Homo sapiens: one gene and its partners. The protein of the gene in region 3 interacts with the protein of the main gene of each other region in a pairwise test. Each region holds a gene or a part of one and is shown on either strand. Other genes may lie near its edges.

What was found. The genes of interacting proteins can lie anywhere in the genome.
Region 1: the proteins of TAOK1 (region 3) and DYNC1I1 interact in a two-hybrid assay, tested with the Homo sapiens proteins (one large-scale study listed by BioGRID and IntAct).
Region 2: the proteins of TAOK1 (region 3) and WT1 interact in a two-hybrid assay, tested with the Homo sapiens proteins (one large-scale study listed by BioGRID and IntAct).

What each region holds. Positions count from the first base shown.
Region 1 is NC_000007.14:96,090,554-96,094,053, reverse strand, and holds part of DYNC1I1 (cytoplasmic dynein 1 intermediate chain 1), read right to left. Parts: intron 1-3,500. UniProt on the Homo sapiens protein: Acts as one of several non-catalytic accessory components of the cytoplasmic dynein 1 complex that are thought to be involved in linking dynein to cargos and to adapter proteins that regulate dynein function.
Region 2 is NC_000011.10:32,411,540-32,415,039, forward strand, and holds part of WT1 (Wilms tumor protein), read right to left. Parts: intron 1-3,500. UniProt on the Homo sapiens protein: Transcription factor that plays an important role in cellular development and cell survival. Recognizes and binds to the DNA sequence 5'-GCG(T/G)GGGCG-3'. Regulates the expression of numerous target genes, including EPO.
Region 3 is NC_000017.11:29,396,863-29,400,362, reverse strand, and holds part of TAOK1 (serine/threonine-protein kinase TAO1), read right to left. Parts: intron 1-3,500. UniProt on the Homo sapiens protein: Serine/threonine-protein kinase involved in various processes such as p38/MAPK14 stress-activated MAPK cascade, DNA damage response and regulation of cytoskeleton stability. Phosphorylates MAP2K3, MAP2K6 and MARK2.

The sequences.
Region 1 (3,500 bases), on a different chromosome or scaffold from region 3:
ATTTACCTTCCTTCAGTGACAACTGTAACATTTCCTGATATCTGTTGTGTGTCAAGCAAGTAACAGGGAGGCAAATGGCATGTTAATAACATTGCTTCAGCATCTCTTCAAGTTTCTATTAAGGCATAAAGGCTAAATCTAGAGTATCACTATGGATTTTTTCTCTGAGAATAATAGCTTAGAATAATTTCCAAACAATTTATGTTTGTGATAGGAAAAAAGATCATAAGTTATTTTGACCAATTAAAAATGTATAGTTCAATTAAGGGAACACCATTAAAAAAAAAAACTTCAAAAATTTCCCAGCATTGTTCTAAGTCAATGTGGATCTGGAAACATTTTCTGCCTCCAGATTCATCTCTGATGAAGTCTGCATCATAGGTTAGGGATGACTCAGATATTCCAACTGCTTCATCGACTGAGTTCACCAACAGCCAGTCCATCTCCTGATTCAATGACTGTTTTCTAATTTTTTGCTAAACATATAAAGCATTTTCATGCCAAAAGTACTTGAGGCTCAGATTCCTGAGATAATAAAATCTTAACTCTAAAAGAGATCACCTTTTATAGATATGATACAATCCCATTTTTACAGCCAATGAAACTAAGGGCAAAGGTAGTTACTGAGGTAGCAATTTGGACATAAGAAAGAGGTAAAATGAACCTCAGATTTGGACAGGAGACTCAAGTCCTGTTCTTATCTTGGTTGCTGGCAACGGTCAGGCACTTACCCTCTCACTGCCTCAATTGTAAAATAAGGATGATGATATCTGACCCATTCATCAACAGAGATGTGGAGAGCATGAGAAAGGTAATCAAAGTAAAGAAAGTACTATGAGTTCATCATGGATTGTCATGCATTCTTTTTCTTTAAATTGTCAGTCAAATTGAACAGCTCCCCAAAATGATACGTTTTGTGGCATGCATACCAATTTTACAGTATTTTTCTGTTTTTTAAAAAAATTTCCTTGGGAATTAATTCTGATTGTTATGTGAGGATGTTAAGAAGCAGGGCGTAGACCTTTCTTTAACAGGTAGGAGAGGACAGTATAGGGAGCTAAATGATTTGCTAAAGACCACATAACCTTCACCTGTTAGTGTGGGGCAATCAAGACTCACCCCTTTGAGAAATGCCAGCATTCCATGACAGAAGGGCAGGCAGGTAATGTGTTTTGAATCACCTGCTCAAAGATTGTAAAGATTGTTTTAAATCTTCTAAGATTCTTGGAAGACAAAAAGTCTACAAGCAAAAGCAAAAGTGCAAAAGTTGTGGAAAAATTCATGAAAATGTATCATTTTAGCCTCCCAGAGCCCCACCACCCAGGCTACCCCACTACTTCTCGGACCATGTCAGGGATCAGTCCCCTCCTCTCTGCCTGAGTGGACTGGAGGCTGCCTCTGAACCCGGTCCCACCTCACCCCTGAAAAACTTATCAGTCTAACCCTTGCTCGCCTTGCCTGGGTGTCCTGTATACCTAAAGGGAGGCACAGACTGTGGAGTAATAACATTTGAGAATGGAGCCAGGGTTGACTTTTTTTCTGCTTCACCAGCCAGATCCTGGTTTCTTTCCCAGATTTGCCATTAACTTGCTGTGTGTCTTTAGGGAATGCATGGTTTTAACACTTCTGATCTTTACTTCCTCATTTGTGTGAAACAAATTGTAAGATCCATCTTCTAGGACTGTATATTAAATAAAACAAAAAAATGTAATAAGCTTAACACAGTGCTTGTACACTATAAACCCTGAATACATGATGTTGTTTTTCCTTCTTAATGTTTATTCCTTTCTTCCAATTTTTTTATTTTCTTTCTTCCTTGCATATTCTCTTTCTTCTTTTCACCTATTTAGAGCTGTACTTTTTTTTTTAGAAGTATACCTTATATTTTATCACATTTTATGTCTGAAATACCCACACAAATAATTTCCTAAGTAGTCAGGCTTTTAATAATAGCTAACTTTCATGAACGGGGGACAGGGAAAGAGTTCTTTCAAATCACAAGAAAAATTCTTTCAGAGTTGCTACTTTCCATTGTTGGTTTAAAAATCAAGTTTAAAATATAAGTATTTATTGTAACTATACACATCCACACACATATGTAGACATGCACATACATATTTTTTATTTTTCACATGTGACTAATACATCCTAATCCAGCTCTTTCCTTGTGGCACTTTCCACAGTGGGATTCTTCATTTTTACCTAAAGTTGTAAGGATTTGTAACTGCTGTACATGCTGTTAAAAAAATCAAATGACTTTTTATAACCAGGGTTAAACATGCAAATATCATTCATGTGTTCCTTTTTATAATCACATGGCTAATAACTATTTTGAATAGTTCTCAGTCAAACCTTCCTCATTTTTTAGTAATTGCAGCTATAATAATTTTAAATAGCTGCATTATCTGCAGTAACTTTCACCATCCCAGTGCAATATTTTTCATAGTAAAAATATCTGTCTCAGGTATTGCTTACTTTAGTTTTCTTTTTTTAAAATCTTGCATAATTAAGACGTTAGAAAAGCGCTCTGATTTCAGTTGGTTTCTCAGATACATGAAGTATGGCCAAGACATTAAGTGAGTAGGACTCTAGGTTTCAAGATAAATATTCCATGGATGTGTGGCTCATCAGCCTCTTTGTAATTTTTCAATTAGATGAAGTAATTTTAAAAAGTGTGTGAGACTATCATGTTAACCATTGATTTCCAAGAGATACACGACAATTCATCTCTGTATTAATCTAAAAATTAAAGTTTTCTGTTAAAAAGATATCTTACAGATTTCCTTTCACTTTAATACACATTATTTTTTAATGCATTTACAGAAAATGTGGAAATGTACATCGGTTTCCACAGAACGACTGCTAACCCCCTCTAAGCTCTAAAAGCCTTTTAAAAAGGACAATTATTAATGGCACCCAAATTCAGGAGATTGTTGACTTACTGGTATACAAATACATGTCTGTGTTCAGAGGAAGCCTGTATTTTTTAGGACAATTCCCTTTACCACACACACAGATGGGAGCAAAGTGGGAGGTAATATGCAATGAAACAGCCACTGAACGACCAAGCATACCCGCTTCACATAAATACAGCCCCACTGTATTTAACTCCCGGGAGAGTCTAGCATCGCAGCTAACAATGGATGAAACCACGGACCAGAATTCCAAGTTAGAATGCAATATACAGAGGGTGTAAATATACTACAGTGTTCTACCACAAAAAGATATATGGTATGTAACTTATTTAGAGCAGTTTCAAAGAAGTCGACAAAGTAGGAGTTACATTAGTCTCTGTACAGCACAGTCTGCTATTACCAGTCAATAGGTACAAATTTCTGTAAAATTAAGCAACATTCTTACCTATGGTGGTCAGATGGTATTTGATTGTTTTTTAATTTCTTTTCATCTGGAAATCCCATCTAAGGGAACCCTCATCCACCCATGAAGCTTCAGACCTCTCTGCCAAAGGTCTCTTCCCTTGTATCTTTAAAGGAGTGGTT
Region 2 (3,500 bases), on a different chromosome or scaffold from region 3:
AGGCTTTTGGGGGGAGTTTTAATTTCCTTCTCTGCGTAGTTGTATTTTCTAACTGTTCTATAATTTATACACATTACTTACATAATAAAAAAATTCAATACATTCATCAAATGCATGTCCAAAAATAAAAGGATAGAAAAGGCCAACAGCCAGGGAGGAGAAAGAAGAAGCAGAAAAGTGAGAAGCAAAGGAAAGAAGCTTCCGAATCAGTCCACACTAAGTGAGAGGGACACAGAGCTAAGTCACGAGTCTCCATCTTTATCAAACCCTGGAGTCCCATTCTTCGTTCTGGTTGGCAGGGTTAACAGACCTCAGGCCAAGTCCAATGCAAGGCAATAATAAAGAAAAAAAACTCTTTAAATGGCATTAAATGAAACTTTAAACGGTGGAAAATTAATAACTTGTTGCTGGGGGTGGAGATGGAGTAGGCTCGGCAATGCTGATATTCACAGAACTGAGGCTCCCCACCTTCACTTTGCATCTCAGGCTCCGGGAGCCACTTAAAAGCAAGCTATCTATTTCCAAGAAGTAAATCTCTTGGACGGATACCTTATGTTCACGAGCCCGCGAGGGAAGGTGCTGGGCTGTGTATTGGAGCTCCCAGCCAGAGAAGACAGCTATCTCTTTTGGCACAGGTTCTCAGGGATGAGACCATGTCTAGCGGGGATTTTCTCCAGATTCGACAGCCTTGGCCCTACCAAAACGCACAGCTTTGTTTTCACCACACATCACTCATTGTTGAGTCTTTTTTGTTTTTCCTCTCAAGCATCCACAGGTTGAATACTGTGTGTTCCCAACAGCCTGTGAACTTCTTGGACCAGCAAAGGGACATTCATTTTGCTGAGCACTCCTTTCACATTTCTATTGTGTTCGATTTCCCACTCCCCCTACCCGAGTCCCCAGAGAATAACTTCTTCCTTGTTTTAATAACTTGGATCACAGTCAAGGTTGATGTGTTTCTCCATTTTGCAGGATATTTTCTTCAGAAGAGACAAAACAGAGGCCAACAGGGTAGGAGAGGCTTGTTCGGAAATCAGCAGCCATTGAGAACACACAGAAAATGTTTTCAAAGAAATAGAAAGCAGATAACACAAGGCACCATCAATAGAAGGCTTCAAAATGGTGGACTCATACTCAGAAAGATTCCCCAGCAACGTTTTCTCCCAGGGACCCACTTTAAAAATCTAATTTCATTTGTTTGGGGGTGAGGGAGAAGAAAGTACTTTCCGTAAAGTACCTTCTCACTGACTTAAATTGAAATACATTCTCCCATTGGAGGTCATAAAAGTAGCTGTGATCCCAGTGGGTATGCAGAAATTAGAAAATGAGTAAAGGGAGAAGGAGGAGAAAGGAGCGGTTCAGTCACACAAGTATATCCCACCTCTAACACAGCAAGTTTTCATTTCATCTGCCCATGTTCTTTATAAAATCCTATCCCCACCCATTGTAACACTGCTCCCTGACATCTAATGAAAGATGTCTCCGTGGACTTGCTTGGGATACAAGGAAACAAACCTATTCTTTGTGAAGCCACTTTTTTGAAACGAAACATTTTCAAGGAAAGAAGACCCGAACCAGCATTTAGTGGGGTTTAGTCTGAGGTGCATGATCTTTTAATAAAAAATTGATAATGCCTCTTTTTTATGAGTGATATGGAAATTACATCTTTCTTCTCTAAAACATGAACCAAATCACCAGTTTTTCCTGTAATAGATCAACCTTGTCACATGATTTTTCTTAACATTGATTTCAAACAGTGTCAAGACACTAGTTATGAATGAACACAAAAAGTTATGTGTCTGAATTTGTCTTCATGGAATACCTTTTCTCAAATGTATTCTCCATATTAATACTTTTCATACCATGGCAAAAGAAAGTAAATCCAGTATCACAAAGAACAATGACCCCAACCCAGATTGGTCTCCCCTGGGGAAAGGCCAAACTTTCTACTGGAATTACAGATTCAACTAAATCCAGTTCTGGGCTGTTCATGAGTTTGGAGGAGACAGCCAAGGTGTCACCATGTTTGAATGCTAAAAGTGAGGCAAACTGTGGGTCATGACACATCAGTGGGTTGTAAAATCAATCTAGTACATCACAATCAGCATTTTAAAAAATGAAATAGGATAGAGAGAAAAAGTCAGCATGCAGAGCATGTCATAAGAGTATTGCTCAGTGAAAATCTATGTTGTGTGTGTGTATGTGTGTGCACATGTGTGTATATGGGATCTCACTGTAAAGGGTATTTCTAACTGTGGTCACAGTCTAAAAGGTTTCCACCCATTTAAGAAGCTCTAATCTAGGGCCCAGGTCCTGGAGTCAGACAGAACTGATTCCAACATGGCTCTGCCACTCACTTACTATGTGACCTTGGTTAGATAGCTTAATCTCTCCACCTCCTCAGCTAAAAAATTGGATGTGGCCATAGTGTCCTGGGGGTGTTGTAAGATCAGATCAGAAGAGGAAACATGTACAGCCCCTCACACGGCACCCAATACTGTTTATATACATCCTTAGATAAATGTCCAGTTCACAAAATGGAAGCGGAAATTCGTGGATTTACAGTATGTTCTACAGTGTGAGAGAAGATGGTAGGCAATTAGCTAATTGTAATTTTTGCTCTGCAAAACAGTTGTTCTTTTGTGGAACTATCTGTTGGGCCATCTAGCCCTTTTTATAACAGCTCCCTGAATAAAGTTAATATTCGAGAAATATACATATATATTGTGTTTGTTTGTTTTGTTTTGTTTTGTGGAAGGGTCTCACTCTATCGCCCAGGCTGGAATGCAGTGGCCTGATCTTGGCTCACTGCAACCTCCGCCTCCCAAGCTCAAGCAATCCGCCCACCTCAGCATTCCAAGTAGCTGGGGTTACAGGCATGTGCCACCACGTCTGGCTAATTTTTTTGTATTTTTTGTAGAGAAAGGTTTTCACCACATTGTCCAAGCTGATCTCAAACTCCTGAGCTCAAGTGATCCACCCACCTCAGCCTCCCAAAGTGCTGGGATTATAGGCGTGAGCCACCATGCCAGGCCAAGAAATACATTTTTAGTCAGGGCGCAGCAGCTCATACCTGTAATCTCAGCACTTTGGGAGGCCAAGTGTGGCGGATCGCCTGAGGTCAGGTGTTCAAGACCAGCCTGGCCAACATGGCGAAAACCTGTCTCTACCAAAAATACAAAAATTAACCAGGTATGGTGGCAGATGCCTGTAATCCCAGCTACTCAGGAGGCTGAGGCAGGAGAATCACTTGAACCCAGGAGGCAGAGGTTCCAGTGAGCCAAGATCGTGCCACTGCACTCCAGCCTGGGTGACAGAGTGGGACTCCATATCAAAAAAAAAAAAAAAAAGAAATACATTTTTATTTCAGAAATCCTTTCTAAGATGTAAGTAACGGACCAATGAAAACTCTTCTCATTTTTTTCTTATGTAGGATTGAACAGAACAAATTGTTCACACTTTGTGCTTCATCCTTATAATACAGCTTCTGCCTCCTCAGC
Region 3 (3,500 bases):
GCTGGAGTGCAATGGCGCGATCTCGGCTCATTGCAACCTCTGCCTGGTTCAAGTGATTCTCCTGCCTCAGCCTCCCAAGTAGCTGGGATTACAGGCGCCCACTACCACACCCAGCTAATTTTTGTGTTTTTAGTAAAGACGGGGTTTCACCACTTTGGCCAGGATGGTCTTGAACTCCTGACCTCAAGCAATCCACCCACCTCGGCCTCCCAAAGTGCTGAGATTACAGGCCTGAGCCACCACGCCCGGCCTGAAATGTCATTTCTTAAGACAGGCTTTATATCCAGCAAAGGAAAAAGAAAACCTGTGATAAATTAAAAACTCCCATCAGAGGTGGGCACAGTGGCTCCTGTGTATAATCTCACCACTTTGGGAGAACAAGGCAGAAGGATCACTTAAACTCAGAAGATCAAGACCAACCTGGGCAACATAGTGAGATCTCGTCTGTACTAAAAATAAAAAAAAATTAGCCAGGTGTGGTGGTGCACGCCTGTAGTCCTAGCTGCTGAGGTGGCTGAGGTGAGAGGATCGCTAAGTCCAGAAGATTGAGGCTGTAGTGAACTTTGATCTCACCACTGCACTCCAGCCTGAGTGACAGAGCGAGAATCTATCCCAAAGAAAGAAAAAAACTCCCATTAAGTACTACACAGTAGTCCATTATAGGTGCAAAAAGTTACTAAGCTACCTTGATATTCTAACTATTTCTTTCAAAAATGTATGTCAGACTCCAGATATATAAATCCAATATCACCAGGCGCAGTGGCTCACGCCTGTAATCCCAGCACTTTGGGAGGCCAAGGCGGGCAGATCACGAGGTCAGGAGATCAAGACCATCCTGGCTAACACGGTGAAACCCCGTCTCTAATAAAAATACAAAAATTTAGCCAGGCATAGTGGCGGGCGCCTGTAGTCCCAGCTACTTGGGAGGCTGAGGCAGGAGAATGGCATGAACAGGGCAGGCAGAGGTTGCAGCGAGCCGAGATTGTGCCACTGCACTCCATCCTGGGCAACAGAGCGAGACTCCGTCTCAAAATAAATAAATAAAAATAAATCCAATATCAAATCAAAATTATATAATGCAACTCATCCTTAAATATTAGACTCTCCCCAGCACTTTGGGAGGCTGAGGCAGGTGGAACCACTTGAGCTCAGGAGTTCGATACCAGACCAGGCAACATGGCAAAACCCCATCTCCACAAAAAATACAAAAATTAGCCAGGCAGTGGCATTTGCCTGTAGTCCTAGCTACTTGGAGGGCAAAGGTGGGTGGATCACTTGAGCCTGGGAGGTCAAGGCTGCAGGCAGCCGAGATCGTGCCACTGCACTCCAGTCTGGGTGACAGGAGTGAGACCCTGTCTCAAAAAAAAAAAAAAAAAAATTATCTCAATGTACTCATAAACATTTATATTAGGCAGCTAGTGTGTGATAGCCAACAATTTATTGAGTGTTAGCATGTATCAGGCAGTAAGTTAAGTACTTAGCAAGCATTATCCTATTTAAACAACCCAGTATATACTATCTTCACATTAACGGGTGTGGTGGCTCATGCCCGCCTGTAATCCCAGCACTTTGGGAGGCCAAGGTGGGTGGATCACCTGAGGTCAGGAGTTCAAGACCAGCCTGGCCAACATGGTGAAACCCTGTCTCTACTAAAAAAACAAAAACATTAGCCAGGCATGGTGGCACATGCCTATAATCCCAGCTACCCGGGAGGCTGAGGCAGGAGAATCACTTGAACCTGGGAGGCTGAGGTTGCAGTTAGCCGAGATCACGCCATTGCACTCCAGCCTGGGCAACAAGAGCAAAACTCCATCTCTAAAAAAGAAAAGAAAAGAGAAAAGAAAAGAAAAGAAAAGAAGCCTGGCGCAGTGGTTCACATCTGTAATCCCAACACTTTGGGAGGCCAAGGCAGGCGATCACCTGAGGTCACGAGTTCATGACCAGCCTGACCAACATGGAGAAACCCCGTCTCTACTAAAAATACAAAAAATTAGCTGGGCATGGTGGCGCATACCTGTAATCCCAGCTGTTGGGAGGCTGAGGCAGGAGAATCGCTTGAACCTGGGAGGCAGGGGTTGCAGTGAGCGAGATCATGCCATTGCACTCCAGCCTGGGCAACAAGAGCAAAATTCCGTCTCAAAAAAAAAGAAAAGAAAAGGTGAGGCATAAATAGTTAAATAAAGAAGTTACCACAGGCCTGGTACTGTGGCTCATGCCTGTAATCCCAGCTCTTTGGGATGCTGAGGAGGGAGGACTGCCTGAGCCCCCATGAGTTTGAGACCAGATTGGGCAACATAGAGACCCCGTTTCTCGAAAAAAACTTTAAAATAAGCCAAGTATGGTGGCATAGGCCTGCAGTCTCAGCTACTCACGGCTTCGGCCCTGAAGGTAGAGGCTGCTATGGGCCATGACTGTGCCACTGCACTCCCACCTGGGTGACACAGCAAGACCCCATCTCAAAAAAACAAAAACTGAAAAAGTTACACATTTACACTAGTAAATGGTGACATACATATATATATATACACATATATATACATGTATATACATATATACATACATGAATATACATATATACACACGAATATACATGTATACATATATACATACGTGTATATATACGTGTATATATGTATATACATACATGTATATTCATGTATGCATACATGAATATACATGTATACATGTATACATGTATCATACATGAATATACATATATACATGTATACATGTATATATATATATATATTTTTTTGGGGGGGGACGGAATCTCACTCTGTTGCCCAGGCTGGAGTGCAATGGCACGATCTCGGCTCACTGCAACCTCCGCCTGCTGAGTTCAAGCAACTCTCCTGCCTCAACTTCCTGAGTAGCTGAGACTACAGGTGCGCGCCACCATGCCCGGCTAATTTTTTGTATTTTTAGTAGAGACAGGGTTTCACCATGCTGGCCAGGCTGGTCTCGAACTCCTGACCTTGTGTTCTGCCCACCTTGGCCTCCCAAAGTGCTGAGATTACAGGCGTGAGCCACGGCACCCAGCCATTTTTTAACTTTTTTATTATTTTCTTGAGACAGAGTCTCACTCTGTCACCCAGGCTGGAATGCAGTGGCACGATCTTGGCTCACTGCAACCACTGCCTCCCAGGTTCAAATGATTCTCCTGCCTCAGCCTCCCGAGTAGCTGGGACTACAGACAAGTGCCACCACGCCCGGCTAATTTTTGTATTTTTAGTAGAGACGAGGTTTCGCCACGTTGGCCAGGCTCGTCTGCAACTCCTGACCTCAGGTGATCCACCCGCCTCAGCCTCCCAAAGTGCTGGGATTACAGGCGTGAGCCACCATGCCCAGCCCTTTTTTTTTTTTTTTTTTTTTGAGACAGAGTTGTACTCTGTTGCCCAGCTAGAGTGCAGTGGCACAATCTCAGCTCACTGCAACCACTACCTCCCAAGTTCCAGCGATTCTCCTGCCTCAGCCTCCCAAGTAGCTGGGATTACAGGCAC